Linked DNA regions of Homo sapiens: region 1 is linked to region 2. Evidence: fine-mapped QTL for protein levels in blood plasma. A gene starts in region 2. The other region holds a variant in brackets. All regions are shown on one strand. Distances are between the middles of the regions. Region 1 overlaps ST3GAL1 (ST3 beta-galactoside alpha-2,3-sialyltransferase 1). Region 2 holds the start of ST3GAL1 (ST3 beta-galactoside alpha-2,3-sialyltransferase 1).

The links. PIP is the chance, under the fine-mapping model, that this variant and not a neighbour inherited with it causes the effect. Protein levels are from the aptamer-based SomaScan assay of Sun 2018.
Region 1: its variant is fine-mapped to the plasma level of the ST3GAL1 protein (Sun 2018, PIP 0.95).

Annotation. Positions count from the first base shown.
Region 1 is chr8:133,487,898-133,493,405 of GRCh38, forward strand. The region is part of intron 3 of ST3GAL1 (ST3 beta-galactoside alpha-2,3-sialyltransferase 1); the gene reads right to left. Among named protein-coding and RNA genes, the nearest start is that of ST3GAL1-DT, 80 kb to the right of the region's middle. RefSeq lists enhancers at 584-1,367, 2,845-3,390. The variant C/T (reference allele first, on the strand shown) is at 3,008.
Region 2 is chr8:133,569,178-133,574,196 of GRCh38, forward strand. ST3GAL1 (ST3 beta-galactoside alpha-2,3-sialyltransferase 1) reads right to left here and starts at 2,710. Exons shown (of 10, transcript NM_173344.3): 1 at 2,516-2,710. ST3GAL1-DT (ST3GAL1 divergent transcript) reads left to right here and starts at 1,395. Exons shown (of 2, transcript NR_186509.1): 1 at 1,395-1,693; 2 at 1,881-4,679. RefSeq lists enhancers at 470-539, 497-1,350, 710-929 and silencers at 2,720-3,209, 3,400-3,459.

The DNA.
Region 1 (5,508 bases), 81 kb before region 2:
GCAGAGGTTGCAGTGAGCCGAGATTGCACCACTGCATTCTAGCCTGGGCAACAGAGCGAGACTCTGTCGAAAAAAAAAAAAAGGAGAGAGAAAGTAGAATGATCTTCGTCCTTGCTCACTGAAAGCAACATCACAGGGTGGGACAGAGGCTGAGATTATTAAGGAATCACACAAAAGACCAGCTGTGATGGTTAGATTTAATGTATCAGCAGGCATGTGGCTTGCCCCTGTCATCCCAGCTATGTGGAGGCTGAGGCAGGAGGATCACTTGAGTCCAGGAATTCAAGGCTGCAATGAGCTATGATCATACTCCAGCCTGGGGGAGCGAGACTTATCTCTAAGTAAATAAATAAATGTAATGAGCCAGCTTGGCTAGGCCATGGAGTCCAGTAGTTTGGTCAGACACTCGTCTAGGTATTTCAGGGAAGGTAGCATGCAGATGTGGTTAAGCTCTCCAATCAGTTAACTTTAAGTAAAGGAGATGAATGCAGGTGGGCCTCATCCAATAGGTTGAAGGCCTTAAGGGCAAAAACTGAGGTTCCCTGGAAAAGAAGAAATTCTGCCTTAAGATTGTAACAGAGAAGTCAAGTCCTGCCTGAGATTTCAGCCCTCTGGCCTGCCCACCAGGTTTTGAACCTGGCAGCCTCCACAACTGCCTGAACCAGTTCCGAAAGTTGAATCTCTTAATATGCATACACAAATATGGGATAGGCTCTGCTCCCCTGGAGAGCCCTGACTGGCAGCCTTCAGTGCCACGAGCAGAGGGCGTAAGAGGGACTGGCTGATGTCTGGGGGAAGTGGTAGTGACTGAGGGTCCACAGGGTGGACAGGTGATTGGGCAGGGAGTGTGAGAGCCTCCCAGGCAGGGGAAGCTACAGGTATGAAGGCCTGTGGGGACAGTAGGTGAGTCCAACGAACTGAAAGAAAACAAAGTCAAGTGGATTGGAAGACTGCAGCGGCACTGGCAGACAGGGGGGGCCAGGCAAGGTCTGGTGGCCCCCCTAAAGTCTGGACAACCTCCTGGGAGCCACAGGAAGCCCTGGAGGAAGGCCAGAGGGAGAGAGGGAACTGGGGACAGGCAGTGACTGCCTTGGCGCCCTCCCTGTGGGACAGCCAAGGGCTGATGGTCCCTTGCTCCTGTCAAATGACCCCATCCACACATTAGCTGTGTCCTGGGGGTCTCAGTAAGTCTATGTCCTCTTGTCCCTTCAGCCCTAGGGTTGGAAACAGTCCCACCATTTCCAGCCCCAGGGACTGCACCACACTTGCTGTTTCCTACACCACACTATGACCTTGTGAATGACCTTTCAACTCAGCTCCCCTCCACTGCCCACTTTGAATGCACCATTTGTGTCCTGCCAGCACCATGACCAGTCCAGGTGACCCCGCAGACCTAACTCCAAGGGGCACAGCTGACAATGTGGTCTAAGCAATGAGTGCCCCAGGAGCTGTGCCCCACAGAAAGCCATGCCTCCCGCCCCTCCCCGGACACCCCTCTGAGGCGCTGGCCACCTCAGAGGATTTGCAAGAAGCACGTGGGTCAGCTGGATGCCCTGAGCCCTGGCCTCCCCTCCACCTTGGGTAGCTGCTCTCGCTAGAATCTGCCCAAACTCTGCTCCAACTGCTGCTGGGGCACTCACCCATCGGGAGATTTCATCCTCAGGCTCATGACACTGATAGGGTCTTTGGCAGGGATGGCACCAGGGGATCCCTTGCACCACTCAGCCAAGTTCAACACATTCCAGGTCCCACCAGGGGGACACTCCAAGAAGCCTGTCCCCCAAGCTCCCTGATGACAGCATCAGTCCCTCCCATAGAAATGTAGTCAACACCAGTAGAGCCAGAGGGCAAGGTCCCCTTAGCCCGCCCATGGCTGCTCCAATCAGCGCCTGTGGCTTGACCACCGCCCACTCCTGGGCCCCTCTTGGAGTTTGATCTGCTGGGTCCTCTCCTGTTGTTCTCTGACTCCTGCCGGGCTTAAATATCAAAGAATCCTCATTGTTTGATAAGCCTGCAGACAAAAGCCCATGGAATATCTCTAACTAGATCTAGTGGCCTCTGGTCTGCCCCTCCTTCTCTCCAACTCACTCCCTCCCCAACTTATCTGTGCATGCCTGACCCATCCATAGCTAATACATTTCTTGTGTGTGGATGCCTGGCGAAAGTCCCCAGGGGCTCTTCGGGCAGGCATTTGCTCTTTGGGCAGAGAAGGAAGTTGGGCTTTGAGAGACTACGCAGTATTTTAGGGACTAGCTAAAGTGCAGTTCCAGGTCCTATGAGGGAGGTGACACCATAATCCCATTTTACAGAAGGGGATGCTGAGGCCCTTGGGTATCAGTGGCTTACTCCAGGTCACATGGCTAGGAAGGGGTGAGGGCCGATTCCTGAGCCTGCTCTTCCATGCTCCACTGCCGTACCTCACCCAGGTACCCAAGCATGCCTGCGATGCTTCAAGAACACAGCTGGCGGCATGCGTATCTTCACTGCTAGATAGCGAAGCCGCACACTAGGCCGGCTCCAGGATCTAGCCCAGGGCAGTTCACACGCATAAATCTGCTCAGGAGGAACCAGTGCCTCCCAAGACATGATGCCAAGGGCCTTAGTGATCCACAAGTGGCAGGTGAATGACAACCAAAGGGAGAGGGAAGGCTGTGTAAGGCAGGTGGCCATGGAGACAGGGGGCATAGCACTGATGGAGGAGGGCAGAGGGGGAGGGTAAACCAGGCCTGTGCCCAAAAAAGCACATGGTGGTGATGATGGAGACGCTGGTATGTTACAGAAAACAGGGCGCCCTTCAGAGGGGCTGCTGTGGGTGGAGCTGGATCGTGGAAGTCCTGAGGAACGTGGACTTGGGGACTGAAGGCAAAGGGGAGCCCGGCTGGCTTGTGAGCAGCAGACAGTAGTGATTGCAACTGGCACATCGTGGCTGGACTGGAGAGGGGTGCACAGGACACCCTGTGGGAGTCTAGAGAGTGGCCCGGTCTCCATGAGCATGACTTGGGAAGTC[C/T]GTTTCCTTTGGAGCCTGTTTCCCTGCTCCTTTCTGCATCGGCGCCTGCCCATTTGCCCCACAGCCCAGCAGTGCCAGCAGGTTGGGAGAACCCTTCGATGTGCTTGCAAATCTTCCTCTTTGCACCTTAGTGCCTCCTGCTTGTTCCTTTGCTGGGGAAGTCGGGGAAAAAAAAGATTCTGCTGAAGCACAAATAGTGGCTCAGAGTAGGCAGTGTGGAGAAGTGCCCCAGAGAAACACGATTAACCAGGATTAGGGTCACATGAGAAGGAGGCGAATATGTTTTCATATTCATAGCCTCACAAAAAGAATTTAAATCCACAAATCTTCTTATGTGTGTGGATCGAGGAGTGCTACATTTGGAGTCCTAGGATAGCCAAATGACATTAGAAGCGTGTAACGTGGCTGGGAATTCCAGGGGTTGCACTATGCGCGCACCCAGGCTCACACCTGTCCCAGAAGAAAGGATTTCCCCCCATTTGGGTGGTGCTGGAGGCTGATAAAGAAGAGACAATTCAGAGCTCCTAATGCCCCTTACACCTGCCCTCAGGCATCTGTCGCTGGTTCTAAAACCCTCAGCATAAAGGAAGGGCTGGAGGTGTGGCCGCTCTGGAGCCGAGATTCACAGTCTGACACGTGGCTTAAAGAGGCCCCTTTCTCCCTAGTCCGTGACTTCACGGAAATATTTTAATGCTACTGATTTTCAGGGGCATCCAGGAGGTGCCTGAAGGAGCTGAGGGGCAGCCTCTAGCAGTGTCCCTAATGGGGATTAAGATCACGTTATAAACCCAGCTACTACAATGGCGAGGCATGCAGCACCCTCCAGGGTTCCGGGATGGGTGGGAGCGTCAGGCGACAGCAGGCATTTCGCATGAACCATCCCATCCCTACACACTGAAGGTTGGAGGGGTGTCACGGTGTCCAGTTGGATCACAGGATTAAACTGCCCTGGCCCAGGCTCAGCCCCACCCCCATACCTGGGCCCCAGAGGAGAGGAAGAGTAGCTCTCATCAGAAAGGGCCCAGCAGTCAGGAAAGGAGGGAGACCTTGCCCTCTTGACCAGGGGCTGCCAAGCTGTCCAGTGGGAGGAGCGAAAACATGGGTGGCCGGAGCATATGGGCAAGGATCGGCACCACGGGGTCAGGGCATGCTCAGAGCAGCTGAGGCCTGGCAGCCCTGGTGAGGCTCGGGATGGACGATACGAGGGGACACTGGGCAGCTTGGACCAGCAGAGGCCCAGCAAGCAGGTGGGAGAACAGAGGCCAGTTCTGACCAGGAGGCATTCCCAGAGCCTGTCCCTGGGGGTCAGGAGGCGTGGACCATGGAGAGACTGAGATACTAGTATTGATGTCTCCCCAAGTGCACCCCCAGCTCATGAGTCCTGGAGATGGCTGGGGAAGAAAGCACTGGGTCCTGTCCCTAAAGTGCACCAACTCTGTGCCAGGCTCCAAGTCAGCACTTCTCTTAGGTTGCTTGTTTGACCTCAACAGCTTTACCAAGGGGTGGTATGTTCTCTTTCAAAGTGAAGAAATGGGGCCAGGCGTGGTGGCTCAAGCCTGTAATCCTAGCACTTTGGGAGGCTGCAGCAGGTGGATCACTTGAGGTCAGGATTTCCGAGACCAGCCTGGCCAACATGGTGAAACCCTGTCTTTACTGAAAATACAAAAATTATCTGGGCGTAGTGGCATGTGCCTGTAATCCCAGATACTGGGGAGGCTGAGGCATGAGAATTGCTTGAACCTGGGAGGTGGAGGTTGTAGTGAGCTGAGATCGCACCACTGCACTCCAGCCTGGGTGACAGAGCAAAACTCTGTCTCAAAAAAATAAGATAAAAGGTGATCCAAACAGCCCGGCTCCAGAGGCCCAGCTCTTCATGCTAAGAATCTACCTTTCGGCCTCAGCTGGTCTCTCTGGATGGCGCCCATACCCCACCTCGGGGAGCGTCCATGCGGCAGGGGGAGTTCACCTCCACTCAGCCCTACTCTGCCCACTCTCCCCACAAAGTGATCACGAGTGCTCCTCACCCTCCGTCCAATAAGGAGGCGACTCTGGCAGGAGAGATAAACTGAGCTACGCCGAATGACCGCTGGGAATGGCCAAACACCCTCATGGCCAGAGGTGCTAGAGACAGCTCTGTCCCAGCTCTGTCTGAGCTGGCCACCAGGTAGGCATCCAACACTGGGAGTGTGCCTCCCATCCCACACTGCAGTCCTTTCCGGGACCTCCCAGGGGTGGGAGGACTGGACGCACTGTCCCCAGCTGATCATTAGAAGGCCTCCCACATAGGGAACACAGCATTTTAAAAACATCTTGTTCTGCTCAACTTTAAAACACACAAGTCTCATTTTATCTCCTCCCACAATGCAGTGATAAGAGGTGGGCCTTGCCAAGGCTGGCTGTACTGCTTGGGTCTTGGAGAGAAACGAAGACTGGAAGGGCAGGAGGTCTAGGGACGGCGATGGCAGAATGTGCCCAGCACTGGCTAGAGACCGCCATCTGAA
Region 2 (5,019 bases):
AGGTCCTGGCCTTGTCCAATCAGACTCTAAACAGCAAATGCCGGCCCAGAAAAATGCAGGGAAAGCAAACTTCAGGGTTTGTGGGATTTTGAAAAGGCAAGAGGAGAAGGAGCCCTCTATTCATTCTTTATTTAGCAAAAAGTGTACGATGGAACTTTTTTCCCTAGACCTGAAGTCAAGGTATACACATACACACATGTAGAGTATGAACTACCTATACATACACACATTCACTTAATTATATGTATTATCGCCACTCGCAATTATGCAGAACGTATTTTGGAGAATGTATTATTGGCCTCATTTTGCAGATATAGAAACTGAGACGCCGAGAGGTTAAGTCTGGCGACCAAAGAGAGACAGAGACAGAGAGACGGGAGACTAGAAGAGGCCCCACGCTGTACCCAGATATTGGCAGAGGCTGAGGGGCACGGAGTGGTGAACTCTAGTCAGTCATTTCAGCCAACCATGGGATTTCAGAAAACAGCCGGCAGGGGTCCTAATGTTTGGGGCAGGAAGGGGAGGTGCGGGAAGGCACTGAGGGACCCCCGCACTGGGCGCCCCTTCCCCACCGCAGAGACAAGCGGCAGTTTCCACAGCAGCCGGCAGGGGGCAGTGCACCTTGCCTTTTCGAAGCCTCTGGGCGCTTGGGCAGCGCGGGGTAAAGAAAATCAGGAGGCTCCGCCCGCAGCTTCTACGAACAGGCCAGGAGTAGAGCCCCCGCACGTAGTAGGTGCTCCAGGCACGTCTAGAAGCCTAAAGGGCTTGGTCGATACATTTGAACTCCATTTTAGAGACTGGAAGGGAAGAAGGGGGCGTCCGGGCCCCTGCCAGCACCTTCCACCTTGGGGCCTTGTCAATGAACACTGCGTTAGCACCTACGACGTGCCAGGCGCCCTGGCGACTATTGGAAAACCCGGCTCCCCTCTCACCCCGTTTTCCTCGTTGGCGAGTCGGCCTCGCCTCCTCCTCCCGTCTCTTCCTCTCACCACACACACCCAGCCGCAGAGCGGGGGTGGGCGCTCGCTGTCTCCCTGGAGAACCAGCTCGTCGCAAACTTGCGGGGCTTGGGGACCCGCGAGGGGGAGAAGTCGGGAGAGGCCAGGGGTGCCCGGAAACAATCACGAGAAAGCCGGGCGAATGCCTGATGCAGGGACGCGGCGAGCCAGTCACTGCCCTCAGGGTCACGGCTGACTCCCTCTGCGGGACTCGCCCAGCCCGCGAGACGCAGTGACCTGCCCAACCCCCACCCCCTTGCGCGCTTCTGGGTGCGCACGTGTCCCCTCGCCCAACACACCACCGAGCCCCGCGCATGGTACGGCCGCCGAGGACCCTAGCGTAGGAGGGAGGAGCGAGTCAGGGCTCCAGCTGACGAGCAGAGCCAGACGATCCCCACACGCTTCCTGGGAGACCCGGCTGCAAGGCCAGGCTAATGCGCGCTCCGACGTCTCTGTGCCAAGCCGGGGCGCAAGCTCAACCCCCATCTCAAGTTCAGCCGCGCTTCCTCCCGCAAGGTCACGCTTAAACACTCGCGCAGAGAAAGGAGGAGCGGAAAGTTGCGCCACCGTCCCGATTCCAAACTAACTGTACCCTCACCAGAGCGCCTCGCCCCAGGGTCACCGCTGTCCGTCCCCGTGCGCTCCCAGAAGGGGTGGCCCTGCCCCCACGCAGGTCACACACACGAGAGACACAGGCAAGTTGCTAACTTTTGTCAGATTATTTCTTGGGAGCTGCGACGCCTCACGGGGTTGGGGCGGATTCAGAGTTTCGAGTTGCCACTAACACGACTCCGGCCGTGCTCTCCTTGGCCCACCCGCGTCCCCCACTGTCCGCCACGCCGCGTTCAGCTCTCTTGTCCCGGGTGTCAACTTCACCCCCAGATCCGGAGCAGCGCGCTCTGACGGCGTCCCCGGGGCCGATAGCCACCTCCCGGATCTGCGCCTGCTTGCAGCGGATTGGGGGACTCGATCCGGATACTGTCCCACGGCCGCTCGTCCAGAACACTGGCGGCCTCCGCGGTGTCCCAGCCTGTGACCCCAAATCCGCTCGAGAGCGCCTGAGCCCGGCCACCCAGCGAGGTCTCCTCCCACGGGCGGCCCCAGCGGAGGAGATCCCAGCCCGGCGCCGGGTGCAATGTCACTGGGGCTGCTTTCGGGAACCGCTGCCCGGGACTTGGCGTAGGTTCCCCACAGAGCTCCAGGCAGCTCCTCCAGTGTCGGCCGAAGACCCCTAAGCCCGAACCTCCACCCCGACCTTCTTCCTCTCCCAAAGCCCTGGGTGGTCGCCGCTGCCAAGGAAGGGGTCTCCCTTCGAATGTCTTCCACTAGAATCCCGGGGTCTTCAGTCCCAGCTCCACTGTCACACCCTCCTAGTCCCCTCCCCACCCCTTCAGTTCCCGGGTCCAGACAATCAACCTTCCACTCCGAGAATCCACAGGAAACTGCCCGAGCCCCAACTCAGGCGGACGCAGCCCCCGCGCACCCCGAGCAGGGTTCGCCTCCGCGCGCGCACTCACCACGGCTGGAGACACGCTGGAGTTTCCGGGATTTGGGCATGAAGGGGTTCGGAGGAGAATACAGGGGTGTGGGTGTCCCGGACACTTGCCCCCTTCCCAGCTCACATCGCCTCTTCCTTCTCTCTCCGCTCTTCTTCCTCCTCCTCCTCCCTCCGGTCTAGGGCTCTTTGTCTTTGCAAAGTGTCGAAACTGTCTGGCATAGTGGGCTCCGCCGGCGGAGGCTGGAGCCGAGGAAGCGAGGAGGCGGGATGAGGGTGGGAGAGGGCTCGGGAACACCTTCCCCCGGGTGTAACGGGAGTGAAAGGCGGGGCGACCGAGGAGGGGCCGCCTTCCCTGGCCGGCCGGGGCCGGGTGCCAGGGCGCGCCAGAGCCCAGCCACCGCCTCCCCTGCGCGCGGCCCTCCCCTTCCTCCGCCCAGTGCCCGCCCCTCCCGACTCTGCGCCTCCGTTCGGCCCCGCCCACCCCAACTTGGCTCGGCTTTCCCTTGGCTCCGGGCTTCCTGCAAGCCGAATTTAGCTCTGCCAAGCCACGTGGACCGCAGCGGGCTCGGCAGAGGCCGAGCCTGGGAGACGCCGGAGGCGGCGGCTGCGGCGCGGGGACCTGATCGGCGCCCCGAGAGGAGCTCCCCGCTCTCTGGACGCGGCCCTCAAGCTGGCGGGGCTAAGGAAGAGCGCCCGGGAGGCCCGGGAGCCACTGGGGTCCGTTTCAGCAGGAAGACGGGCACGCACCGAGAGGATGGCAGTGCCCAGAAGAACTCGAGTCGGGGGCACGGTGGGGAGAAGGGGCCGATCCCCTGCTGGCGACCGGGCAGAGCCACCCACTTCCTCTAAGGGCGCGGGACTCGAGGTGGGATTTAGGGAGGGGGAAGGGAGGAGCGTGGGCTGGACGACTCTTGCGGCCAGAACCGCGTTCAGAGCCACAGAGCCGGGCACTGCGGCCGGCCCTGGTCCCGGCCCCGGCCCTGGCCCAGCCCTTGCCCTGGCTCGCCTGCCGCCGCTTTTTCCTTCCAGATGCGGAGGCTGCGGCTGGAGCTTGGGGTTTGCGGATTAGGCTTGCAGTTATTCAGCCCTCCCTCTTTTACAGGGAAGCGGGGGCGGTGGAGACTTCTTTTGCTGAAAGGCAGAGTGCAGCGCTTTGATGCTAAATGCAGTACACAAGTCATGTAAATCTGGTTTTACGGTTCTTAACCCCTTACTGAGACTACCTCTTTCGCAACTTTTCGGAGGAATGTTAGAGGAAAGAGGCACAGTTTGCCTTTGGGGTCATTGCATCCTTCCAGCGCCCCTTGCTCCAGCTGGAGAGAGATCAACCTTTTGCAGTGGAAGGGGAGAGTCCCCCAGCCTTTGTTTCATCAGACGGCTGCTGTAGTACAGGGATTCAGGCCAGGGCCCGCATGGCCGGACTTCTTGGTTCAAATCCTGCACTGCCACTCAACGGATGTGTGAGCTTGGGCTAGTGACTGAACCTCCCAGCCTAGGTGACTCTGTGCCTCGGTGTCCTCATCTGTGAGAACCGACCTAAGAAGTGTCTGTCTGATAAAGCTGTTGTGATGAGTTAGTGAATTCGTACACATAGAACCTTTAGAACTGTCTTTGACATGTAGTAAGTCAGCTGTGTAGATGGTGGGTTTCTCCAGTGTCAGGTCCCTGCCCACAGCAGGAAGATGACCTGTGCTAGAAGATGGGGGCTAGGGTGTTGGGGAAGACTTCAGGGACTTGGGAGAGAAAAGGAGAAATATTCAGAGATGAGAAAAGTAGAAGAAAAACCAGCTTTTAAAAGGGGGAGGAGAGAGAATGAGAAAAATAACTACTAGAAAGGGAAGGAAAAGATGAATAGCCTTTTAGGTACTTCGGGACCTGCTCTGAGACCTCTTGCCTGACGCCCTTGGTTTTTGATAGAATTCTAGAGAAGGGGTGAGCCCTTTTGTCTGCCTGGACACATCCTGTGGGCTTTCCTCTTTCTGAAACTCAGGTCAAGGTGTTCACTGCATCTCCAGATTGCTTGTGTGCATGGGAGGAGGGGGGCAGAGAGTTCTGCTTACATCGGCTACTGTCCCCTCCACCAGCAGCGTCTTCCAGCAAAGAAGAGCTTCTAACATGCACCAGACTTTTAGCTTTGGCTGGGAATATCGTCTGGGCCAATAAAGAGTTTTTGGATGAAATAACAAAAGTGTTGTTTATTGTATGGATCAAATAATGTATGGGAACATATTCGAAAAATAGAAAATGCTATACTCATATAAGACTATGCTACTATATCCTAGTAGATTCTGTGGAAAGAGGATCAGATTTGGCAAGTAAGGAGCCCCAGGTCATCCAGCTGTTGCACTTTGCAGCCAAGAACCAAAAGCAGCTCAGTTTTAGCTGAGTTCTTACTGTATGTATTCCACGTGCAATACTGGCAGTGCAGTAGTTTTGTTTATACCAGCATCACCACAAACATGTGAGTAATGCATTGAGTTGATGTTCTGATCACTAGGCACAGGAGTTTTTCAGCTACATTAA